Regions from separate parts of the Homo sapiens genome. Here region 2 is linked to region 1. Evidence: fine-mapped expression QTL. Tissue or cell type: cerebral cortex. Region 1 holds a variant in brackets; the other region holds the start of a gene. All regions are shown on one strand. Distances are from middle to middle.

Region 1 (5,381 bases):
CATGAAAACCAAACATAAAAGATCATCTGGGGACATTCATTCAGAGCACGTTACCCACATTCCACCACCACTACTCTGACAGCACAAAACATATACCAGGAGCTGGGGTTATGTGGTGGGGGAGTCCTTCCTATTGTAAGCCCTAACATTATGACCCTCTGGGGTTAAATTTTATAATTTTCATATTGTGGAGTCCCATATTTTGTTCTGCTTTCCACTAGTCCAGGCTTCTGAGGTCTTCTCTGTGTTCATTGCTTATTAATTTTATTCAGCAAAGATTAATTGAGCTCCTGCAATGAGACACACACACTATGTTAGGTGCTGGGGAACAAAATAGGGAAGGGCCCTACCCTCAGAAAGCTTGCAATTTATGAAAGAATACTAACAAAACCTGCAAAGTGGTATTTTAAGTTATTTTGTTTCATTTTTGCTATTGAAACAAAGAAACTGAGAATTTGGTATGATTCAAAAAATGTTTAGGTACAAGAAAAAGAAAAAAGCAAGAAGCACTTGCCAGATTTAACTATAATTCCTAAAAATGATGAACATTTTCATCTTCAGGAACATGAAACATCATCGACTATTCTCTACAGACAACAGGCAAAGGTTCTTACTGGTCCAGTACATACAAGTCCTTCAGGAAGAAAAACATGATTCTACCAGGATTGGGTTGAATAGAGAGAGAATTGCAGTTTAAGATTCATGAGTATGGAAATAAACAGCTCTTATGGCTAATAAACTCTCTATGAACTTTAAAAAGAAAACAAGAAAAAAAAAAGCATGGCTTTTTAAAATCCAAAGTCCTTGCCTTAGGAAGAGACAGGACTAAAGTAAAAATAAATGAAGTCTGTTTGAAACTCATGAGTTGCACACCTCATGTTGCCAGAAGCTGGTTTAAAAAGCAGTCTAGCTGGGATTTCCATGCAAACTCAGCAAGTCATGAATCAACTTGAAGCCTTGTCTCCCAGAGGCCATAGGAGCTGGGTGTGTCCCAGAGATGCTGTGTCCTGATTCTGTGGAAAGGGTGGGGAAGAGAGGTCACTGAGGATGTTTCTGGAGAAAGTTGTGCATGGCTTTCCTTCTTAGCTAGGAGGGAATAGGGGGTGTGTCAGGAGGGTGAATGGGAGAAGTGAGGGCAGATGAGTGGATGTGTGAGTAGTGTTAGCAAGCCAGATTAAACAAACTGCTTGTGGTTTAATCTGATGCTCAAATAAAACACTTTGCCTGTATTTCTAGGTATGGAAGAAGAGAAAGAAAAGCCTAAATTGGAATGAGATCCAAGTCTAAACGCAAGAGCTAGATTGAGCCGCCATTGAAGACTCCTTCCCCTCGGGCATTGGCAGTGGGGGAGAAAAGGCTTCAAAGGAACTTGGTGGCATCAGCACCCCCCTCCCCCAATGAGGACACCTTTTATATATAAATATGTATAAACATAGAATACAGTTGTTTCCAAAAGAACTCACCCTCACTGTGTGTTAAAGAATTCTTCCCAAAGTCATTACTGATAATAACATTTTTTCCTTTTCTAGTTTTAAAACCAGAATTGGACCTTGGATTTTTATTTTGGCAATTGTAACTCCATCTAATCAAGAAAGAATAAAAGTTTATTGCACTTCTTTTTGAGAAATATGTTAAAGTCAAAGGGGCATATATAGAGTAAGGCTTTTGTGTATTTAATCCTAAAGGTGGCTGTAATCATGAACCTAGGCCACCATGGGGACCTGAGAGGGAAGGGGACAGATGTTTCTCATTGCATAATGTCACAGTTGCCTCAAATGAGCACCATTTGTAATAATGATGTCAATTTCATGAAAAGCCTGAGTGTATTGCATCTCTTGATTTAATCATGTGAAACTTTTCCTAGATGCAAATGCTGACTAATAAAGACAAAGCCACCCTGAACCTGACGTCTGCATTGTGCATCTCAAAATCCTAACAGCATTAGTATCTCCTTTTCATTTTTATTACCTGTTGAAAATGGGTTTACTGAACCTGGTTCTTTCCTATAATTTTTGGATTTTAAAAAATGTGAATCTTTTTGATAACTCCAAAACAAATTTTTTTTTTCTTTTTTTCCAGATGGAGTCTCACTCTGTCGCCCAGGCTGGAGTACAGTGGCGTGATCTCAGCTCACGGCAAGCTCCGCTTCCCGGGTTCATGCCATTCTCCTGCCTTCTCAGCCTCCCGAGTAGCTGGGACTACAGGCGCCTGCCACACGCCCGGCTTATTTTTTGTATTTTTAGTAGAGACGGGGTTTCACCTTGTTAGCCAGGATGGTCTCGATCTCCTGACCTTGTGATCCACACGCCTCGGCCTCCCAAAGTGCTGGGATTACAGACATGAACCACCGCGCCCAGCCACAAAATTGTTTTTAAAAAAACTATTTTACAAAATCTTTGACCGTAATTATTTTTAAGATGAAAAATATGTTATATAAATTATAAAATGTTACTTAACACAAATATAAGTATTGATTGCCCAATGTTGAGAGAGATCAACAAATGATATAAAACCATTCACTCCAAAATTATAATTACATTTTAAAATTAAAAAATGAAAAGCATTAAACTTTTTAATTTGAAAAAAATTTAAACTCAAAAAGTTAATTTAAAATTAGTTACATTTAAATGTAATTAAATGCTAAAAATCTCTCTTCCTTCCGTCTCTCTGTCTCTCTCTTTCTCCCACACACATTCACTCTATATGCCCCCCATTTCTGAAAGCAAAATTGATAGAAATATAGAATGCATCTAGCAGCATTACCATATTAGTTTCCTAACTCATGGAGCTGGGACTTTTAAGTAGGAAAGTCAAGCAGAAATCCACCAAAACAGAAAAGCACAGCA[A/G]TACCACATCCTTGGAATGACTGCTGCAGTTAGTACAGGATCAAAGACTTGAAGGATCCAGAGTTGGTTTCCATCACAACTACATGTATCTTACCTGTCTGACCTCTATTATGGGTTACATTGTGGCACTGTGTCCCCCTAAAATTTATATGTTGAACCCGTAACCCCTAGTGCCTTAGAATATGACTGTTTTTGGAGACAGGGCCTTTAAAGAGGGGATTAAGTTAAAATGAGGCCATTAAAATGGGCCCTAATCCAATCTGAGTAGTATCTTTGTAAAAAGGGGGAATTAGGACACACAAAGGGACACCAGGAATGTACATACACAGAGGAAAGACCATGTGAGGGCATGGGAAGAAGGTTGCCAACTGCAAGCCAAGGAGAGAGGACTCAGAGGAACCAAACCTGCTGACACCTTGATCTTGGACTTCTAGCCACCAGAACTTTGAGAAAATAAATTAATATTGTTTAAGCCACCAGTCAGTGGACTGACATTTTGCTATGTCAGTAACAGCAAATTAATACGAACTGTGTACAAACGATGGATGAATTTTGGAGGATGATAAATTATTGTAAGCTTACTTAGGCGGTGGCTCCACTGATAGCAGTGTTTCCAGAAGTCTTTTTGCTGGAGTAAAACAATATAATCCCTGGGATATCGAATGAAGGTACTAAAAAATTTTTTTTTGTTTTTGAAACGGAGTTTTGCTCTTGTTTCCCAGGCTGGAGTGCAATGGCACCATCTCAGCTCCCTGCAATCTCCGCCTCCCTGGTTCAAACGATTCTCCTGCCTCAACCTCCCAAGTAGCTGGGATTGCAGGCATGCACCACCAAGCCCTGCTAATTTTGTACTTTTCGTAGAGACGGGTTTCTCCATGTTGGTCAGGCTGGTCTCAAACTCCCGACCTTAGGTGATCACCCGCCTTGGCCTCTCAAAGTACTGGGATTACAGGCGTGAGCCATTGCGCCCGTCCTAAAATTTTCTTGTAGTGGGAAAATGGGGTGGCGAGGCTGGGCGCAGAGAGGCTGGGGCTGCGGCTCAGCGTGGGCTCCCCTGGTGCGCAGCAGCAGCTGCGAGGAGCTCACTGCGGTTCTAGCCCCGCCGCAGCTGCTTAGACGCAGGTTTAACTTCTTTATTCAGAAAAAAATGTGGTTCAGAAAAGAACCCAGTAAGGTTGAACCTCGAAGATCAGACACGGCAACAAGTGGTGAAGCATACAAGAGAAGTGCTTTGATTCCTCTGGTGGAAGAAACAGTCTTTTATCTTTCTCCCTATCCTATAAGGACTCTCATAAAACCTTTATTTTTTTACTGTTGGGTTTACAGGCTGTGCATTTGGATCAGCTGCTATTTGGCAATACGAATCACTGAAATCCAGGGGTCCAGAGTTATTTTGATGGCATAAAAGCTGATTGGTTGGATAGCATAAGACCACAAAAAGAAGGAGACTTCAGAAAGGAGATTAACAAGCGGTGGAATAACCTAAGTGATGGCCAGCGGACTCAGGTATCATAGCTGCAAACGTCCTTGTATTCTGTTTGTGGAGAGTACCTTCTCTGCAGTGGACAGTGATCTGATATTTCAAATCTAATCCAGCCTCAAAAGTCCGTTGTTCTCCAATGTTGCTGTCAACATTCAATCATTTCTCCTTATTTCACATGGCAGCAAATATGTATGTTTTGTGGAGCTTCTCCTTCAGTATAGTGAACATTCTGGGTCAAGAGCAGTTCATGGCAGTGTACCTATCTGCAGGTGTTATTTCCAATTTTGTCAGTTATGTGTGTAAAGTTGCCACACGAAGATATGGACCATCACTTGGTGCATCTCGCGCCATCATGATGATCCTCGCAGCTGTCCGCACTAAGATCCCAGAAGGGAGGCTTGCCATTATTTACTTCCAATGTTCACATTCACAGCAGGAAATGCCCTACAATCCATTAACGCCACGGATATGGCAGGAATGATCCTGGGACGGAAATTTTTTGATTATGCAGCACATCTTGGGGGAGCTCTCTTTGGAATATGGTATGTTACTTACCCTCATGAACTGATTTGGAAGAACAGGGAGCCTCTAGTGAAAATCTGGCATGAAATGAGGACTAATGCCCCCCCAAACAAGAGGTGGCTCTAAGTAAAACTGGGATTGCACAGTACCGGTGCACCTGTCTTGTCCTGCCGGAGAGCCCCAGGAGACATCGGCCCTAGAGTGATCATGGCTACGTTCCCGCCTGGAAGACGCCAGCATCTGGCCTCCCACTGTTTTCAGCTGTGTCCCCGGGTCCGTGTCTTTTCAGAAAGTGAAAATGACATAGTTGTGACGTAAAGGTTTACATCTAGTTCGTAAAAAATAAAAAAATAAAAATAAAAATACATTCCTTTTACCTTGCAAGGATAGCAGAATGCCCTCACTATATTTTCTCAAGGCTATTTCTTTGTGTGTTTGTGTATGTGTGTGTGTGTGCATGTGTTATAAATATTTTTAATTTAACTTTTAAGTTCAGAAATAAATGTACAGGTTTGTTATATAGGTAAACT
Region 2 (5,381 bases), 280 kb before region 1:
GTAGAATGAAAAAGATAAAAAAAAAGACATGCAAATATTTCTTCTATACATAGAAAACAGTATTATCTAAATCAAATATGGAATCATCATAAGAATACTTAGAAGTGAATAATGTATTATAGTTCATAAAAAGTAATAACTTACCTAATGAAGTTTTAAAAGCAATTGTTTACGCTGTAAAAACACAATGTGTGTAGATTAATATTTTCCACAAAAGTTATCTGTAAAACATGACTAAGATTGTTAGATATGGTCTGAAAAGCACAGAAAGCAAGCCTGGACATGTTAATAGTTATCAAGAAGTTCCAAAAATTGTGAACTGACATTCTCATAAAATAGTATTTGAGTCAAGTTTTATACAAACGCTTCATTTTTTTAAAGCACAAAACTATCTGATCATGGTTGGCAAATCATGAAAAAACAAAAGCAAACCCAGCAGAATAGGTTCTAAATACTTAATTAAGAGTTATAGTTATTTATTTAAAAGAAACTGGTCGGGCGCAGTGACTCACACCTGTAATCCCAGCACTTTGGGAGGCCGAGGCAGGTGGATCATTTGAAGTCAGGAGTTCAAGACCAACCTGGCCAACATGGTGAAACCCCATCTCTACTAAAGATACAAAAAAAATTAGCCAGGTGTGGTGGCATGCGCCTGTAGTCCCAGCTACTTGGGAGGCTGAGGCAGGAGAATAGTTGAACCCAGGAGGCAGAGGTTGCAGTGAGCTGAGATCATGCCACTGCACTTCCGCCTGGGTGACAGAGCTAGACTCTGTCTCACAAAAAAACAAAAAGAAAAACAAAACAAAAAACCTGACCATTAAAAATGGCTTTATGAAAATATTATTTCATTTTGTAACAATGGGGTTGGGGAGTCTTAATAATTGTCTAACATGTAAAGTAGGAAGGGTATATCAAACTTTGCAAATATCACATTAACTCATAAAACTTTATTAAGGCTCTATTGAGAGGTGAGGCCAGCTGGACCTCCTGAGACAAGTGGGGACTTGGGGAACTTGCCTGTCTTACAAGAGGAGTGTAAAATGCACCAATCAGCGCTCTGTAAAAAGCACCAATCAGCACTCTGTAAAACACACTAATCAGCACTCTGTAAAACGCACCAATCAGCAAGATTTTAAAAGTAGCCAATCGCAGGGAGGACTGAAAAAAGGGCACTCTCATAGGACAGAAACAGAACACTGGAGAGGACAATAAGGGAATAAAAGCTGGCCACCCCAGCCAGCAGCAGCAACCCGCTCCAGTCCCCTTTCATGCTGTGGAAGCTTTGTCCTTTCACTCTTCACAATAAACCTTGCTATCGCTCACTCTGGGTCTGTGCCATCTTTAAGAGCTGTAACACTTACCACCAAGGTCTGCCGCTTCATTCTTGAAGTCACTGAGACCACTAATCTACCGGCAGGAACCAATTCCAGACACATTATTAAGGTAGGTAGATCTTCAATAGATCTACTCTTTTTTATTTTTATTTTTTTGGCAGTTTATAACCATGTACCAAGGATGCACAATTAAAAAAATAAAGCCAACTTTTACATTAAGATTTAACCAAAAATCATCAATAATACATCGTTTTAATGCTAGTAGAATCTTCTTCTGACATCAGTTCTATTAGCATAATTATAATGCCAATTAAAAAAATCTAGTGGGTCTCTTCATTTTAGTTTAGAGCTTGATTGGAAACATTCAGGAAAACATCCATGGCTTGCTTGCTACTTTCTCTTTACCTCTAGCACTATGCTTCTCCCCACCAGCCCTCCCTCCACATCCTCTGACTCAGAGACTATTTGAAGAGGACACCTGTTTTAAATGGATCCACAGGAAATACCTATGTTGCCTTTTCATAATCCGAACCTGCAACTGGTTGGCTGAAATGAAAATGTTGCCCACAGACTGATGCAACTTCAGTGTGACAACATTTACTGGAAGGCAGGAGGGACTCCAGTTTATATTTATTTTCCTTCCATTAAGCCCTGGTAGTGTAGTGTAAGAAAAAAGTAAGGGCAAAACCAGTTTAACAACCAGATGATTAGTATTAAATTACACGCAGGGGTTTTACATCCAAAATTGGAATTTTTTAAAGCTGAATGCAATCTTGTGGCAGAAAGTTATTTGAAAATCCTTTCTTTATAGCTTTTTATCTATAAACCTCTTGTCCAAAGTTCATATTCTAGCTGATGTTATATACTGATATGACATTATTCAATCTGTCATGGAAAAGTGCTGCGTAGCCTACCCATTGAAAGCAGAATTGAGAGAGTTTCCTAGTGATTGACAGTCGTTTGTCAACACTGAAAACCTTATTGCCCCAAAATACTGAAAGTCACTCGCGGCTGCCTGTGCTCGGGTTTACACCCCACGTTCACACCCCCACCGGATCCCTCCGCACGGGGCACCAGCTCTCGGCCAACTGCAACTACCCCAGGAAGCGTCACCGCGATTCCGGGGCGGGAACATTTGTGGACACTGGGGTCCACTCCTTCAGTCTAGGTTCCCCGCCCCCTCGCCCGGCCCGGCGCCCACTAGCCACAGGGCCCGCTTCCCCCTGGAGATCAGCGCGCACTTCCCGAGCCCTCGTAGCACTCAGAGGTCGCATCCACACCTGGGATGCCTAGGGGGCGCCTCCTGGCCGGGTGTCCCGGGACCCTGCGAACGCAGGAGCAGAATGACGAAGGTGACGAAAGAGATGACGACACGCCGCCTGCCAGGCCGCGGCCGGCAGTGGAGAGCGTCCGCAAACCGCGCCCGGCCAGTACAGGTCACCCGGGCGCTCGCGGCCGCGCCAGTCCCCGGGGGCGCGCGCCCCGCCCCCGCCCCCGCCCCCGCCCCGCCCCGCCCCGCGCCCGCGCCCGCGCCCGGGTTCCCACGGCGCCCGCCCCCGCGCGCCCGGCGCCTCCCTCACGCCCGCCCTCCTTGCCGCCCAGCCGGTCCAGGCCTCTGGCGAACATGGCGCTTGTCCCCTGCCAGGTGCTGCGGATGGCAATCCTGCTGTCTTACTGCTCTATCCTGTGTAACTACAAGGCCATCGAAATGCCCTCACACCAGACCTACGGAGGGAGCTGGAAATTCCTGACGTTCATTGATCTGGTAAGGCCGTCCCCTCCCCCTGCTCGCCCCGCACCCCGTGCCTGTGTGTGCGTGTGTGTGTGTGTGTGTGTGTGTGTGTGTGGATGCGCGAGCACCTGCGCACGTGCGCGCCTCCAGCATCCACCCGTGTCCTCGCCTCTTCCCCAGTGATTGCGTGTGAAGGCCTGGCTGCCCCCGCAGCGGCACCTTCTGAACCACTCACCGTTACCTGGTAGCTGGGTACCCTTACCTGGCAACTGGGGGACAAATGGAGGTGGGGCGCAGCCAGGTGGTGGGCTCTTTGGAGGGGGACACCGAACTGCTTCTAAGAGGTGACACGGGAAGAATCTTCAACAAAAGCATCGGACCTGATCCTGAATGGCCTGAGACCCATTCGCCCTCAAGGTGCTTTTCAGAGCACCCACCGTGGGATGAACTTGTTGCAACTGAAGGAAACTGGGTATTGTCTAGTGATTTGGAACTTCACCTGAAAGAACCAAATCCTTCTCATAAGGGAGAGAAAGCACCTAATAAAGTTGTCTTCTTTGCATCTGTTTTTTTCCCCCATTGTCAATAATTTACTTTCAACCTTTACCCCGTACATATTAGGAGACAGAGATGTTCAAAGTGCATTTCCAAGGTGACTGTACACACTTCTCTGTCTTCCCATGTACAAATTTACAGTAGTTTGCATAAGCAGCTCCTCTGTTGGCACAATATGATAATCTTGACAGGTGCAGGTTATTATTAGTATATCATTTTGAAAGTTTTTCTATTTCTGGCACTAAAAGGCCCTCTTCAACCTCCCTGGAGAACAGAACATGGGCATAAGGCCCAATAATGAACTCATGGATGGACCTAGGAATTTCAGGGTAAAGGTGACTAAGACACACGCTAAAAGATTATTAGGAAGAGGCTTAAAACAAAAGCAATGAAGTTCTAAAGCACTCAGAGAAATTGTAGAACCAATTCCTGGGACTCCCTGAACTGTTTATCCAAGACTATACAGTTGGTTGGCTACACCAGCAAGATTATAATCTCTTGTTGACCCTCCATTCTGATGAAGAGAACATGATACCTGTTTTAAAAATTTCCAAAGGCTTAGGATGCCTCAAAGAAATGCAGAGAGGCTTTTGGTTTAAAAATAACACCTTATATTTGCATTATATTAGATACTTTCAGAGTGGAATTTCAATTCTGTTGCCCAGCAGTCTCCAAACTGTGCACATACCCTTAGGCCCACAAGACTTCACAGGGTATAGAATGTTGCAAGGGTTTTAATTTTCAGATCCTCATCTTCCAACTCTGCTTGAAACTAATTTCCCTCTGAACATGCGTGATGCCTGCCAGTTCTCCTTTCATTCTCCCCATTCATCCAAGTGAGGAGCCCGTGACAAGACTCTGAGGTGTGCTTTTCTGTCTGTTCCTTTTAGCTTCCAGAAGATAGATGGTTGTCACCAGGGCTATCTTTATATTTGATTGAACAACAATGTCGGAGTTGCCTTGACAGAAAGTCTTATTGGGTTGATTGGCTTGTCAATGAGGATTGGCTTTGCCAATTATGTTGTGTAGCAGACATTTTCTGTATACTGAATGAGCTAAATCTGCAACCCTGAGGTTCTGATGCATATGTATATGAAGCAAGCATACCACCCATAGAGCGCCAGAAAGATGTCCCTTTTTCAAGTGTTTACACTTAACTATGTTAAGGATGTTGAGATGTTATTTAAAAATATGTGCATAGATTTTCAGAATTCTTTGAGGGGCTATGTGAGCAAAACTCCTTTTGGGACACTGCCTTATCCCATTCCTAAGTCAGATCTTACTTAGAGCTGGCCTATTTGAATGTTGCTAAAGAGCAGTGCTGGGCAAGAATACAGAGATGCTGTGGGAGCCATAGGTTCTAGAAACAGCCCTCAGCATCACTCTTGCAGTAGATGCTGTGTTGTGGGAGCAAGGCAGGGGTCAGCAGGTGAACAGAGGTAGAAATTGAGGGTGTTGGTTAACCCAAGAGATGCCTGCTTTTCATAATTAGCATTGCTTACTGTGCATTGAAAAACAAGGCTCAGAAGAAATGATATACCTCTCATAACCTTTGTGTGACATGAAACCATAGTAGAGTCAGCTTGATATGCTGTCATATAATTTATCTTTTAGCATTCAATGATTGGACTTGCCTGTTTTAAATACTAATCACCATACAGGACTTTTTCTATCCCAGAAGTCAGACAGTAGATTCAAATGTGAAACATTTACTTTGCTTCATATTTAGCTTCAGATTGTATAGGACCTTTAGCCAGCGT

Evidence for each region. PIP is the estimated chance that this variant, and not a neighbour inherited with it, causes the effect.
Region 2: AIG1 starts here. The variant in region 1 is the best candidate, but not a certain one, in a credible set for the expression of AIG1 in cerebral cortex (GTEx, PIP 0.61).

What each region holds. Positions count from the first base shown.
Region 1 is chr6:143,338,403-143,343,783 of GRCh38, forward strand. AIG1 (androgen induced 1) reads left to right here. Exons shown (of 6, transcript NM_016108.4): 6 at 1,237-2,656. The coding sequence ends at 1,274. It also overlaps the pseudogene PARLP2. Among named protein-coding and RNA genes, the nearest start is that of ADAT2, 110 kb to the right of the region's middle. The variant A/G (reference allele first, on the strand shown) is at 2,847.
Region 2 is chr6:143,057,968-143,063,348 of GRCh38, forward strand. It overlaps AIG1 (androgen induced 1), which reads left to right and starts at 2,922. Exons shown (of 6, transcript NM_016108.4): 1 at 2,922-3,099. The coding sequence starts at 2,959. RefSeq lists enhancers at 1,918-2,856, 2,682-2,811, 3,412-3,461 and silencers at 2,812-2,901, 3,152-3,221.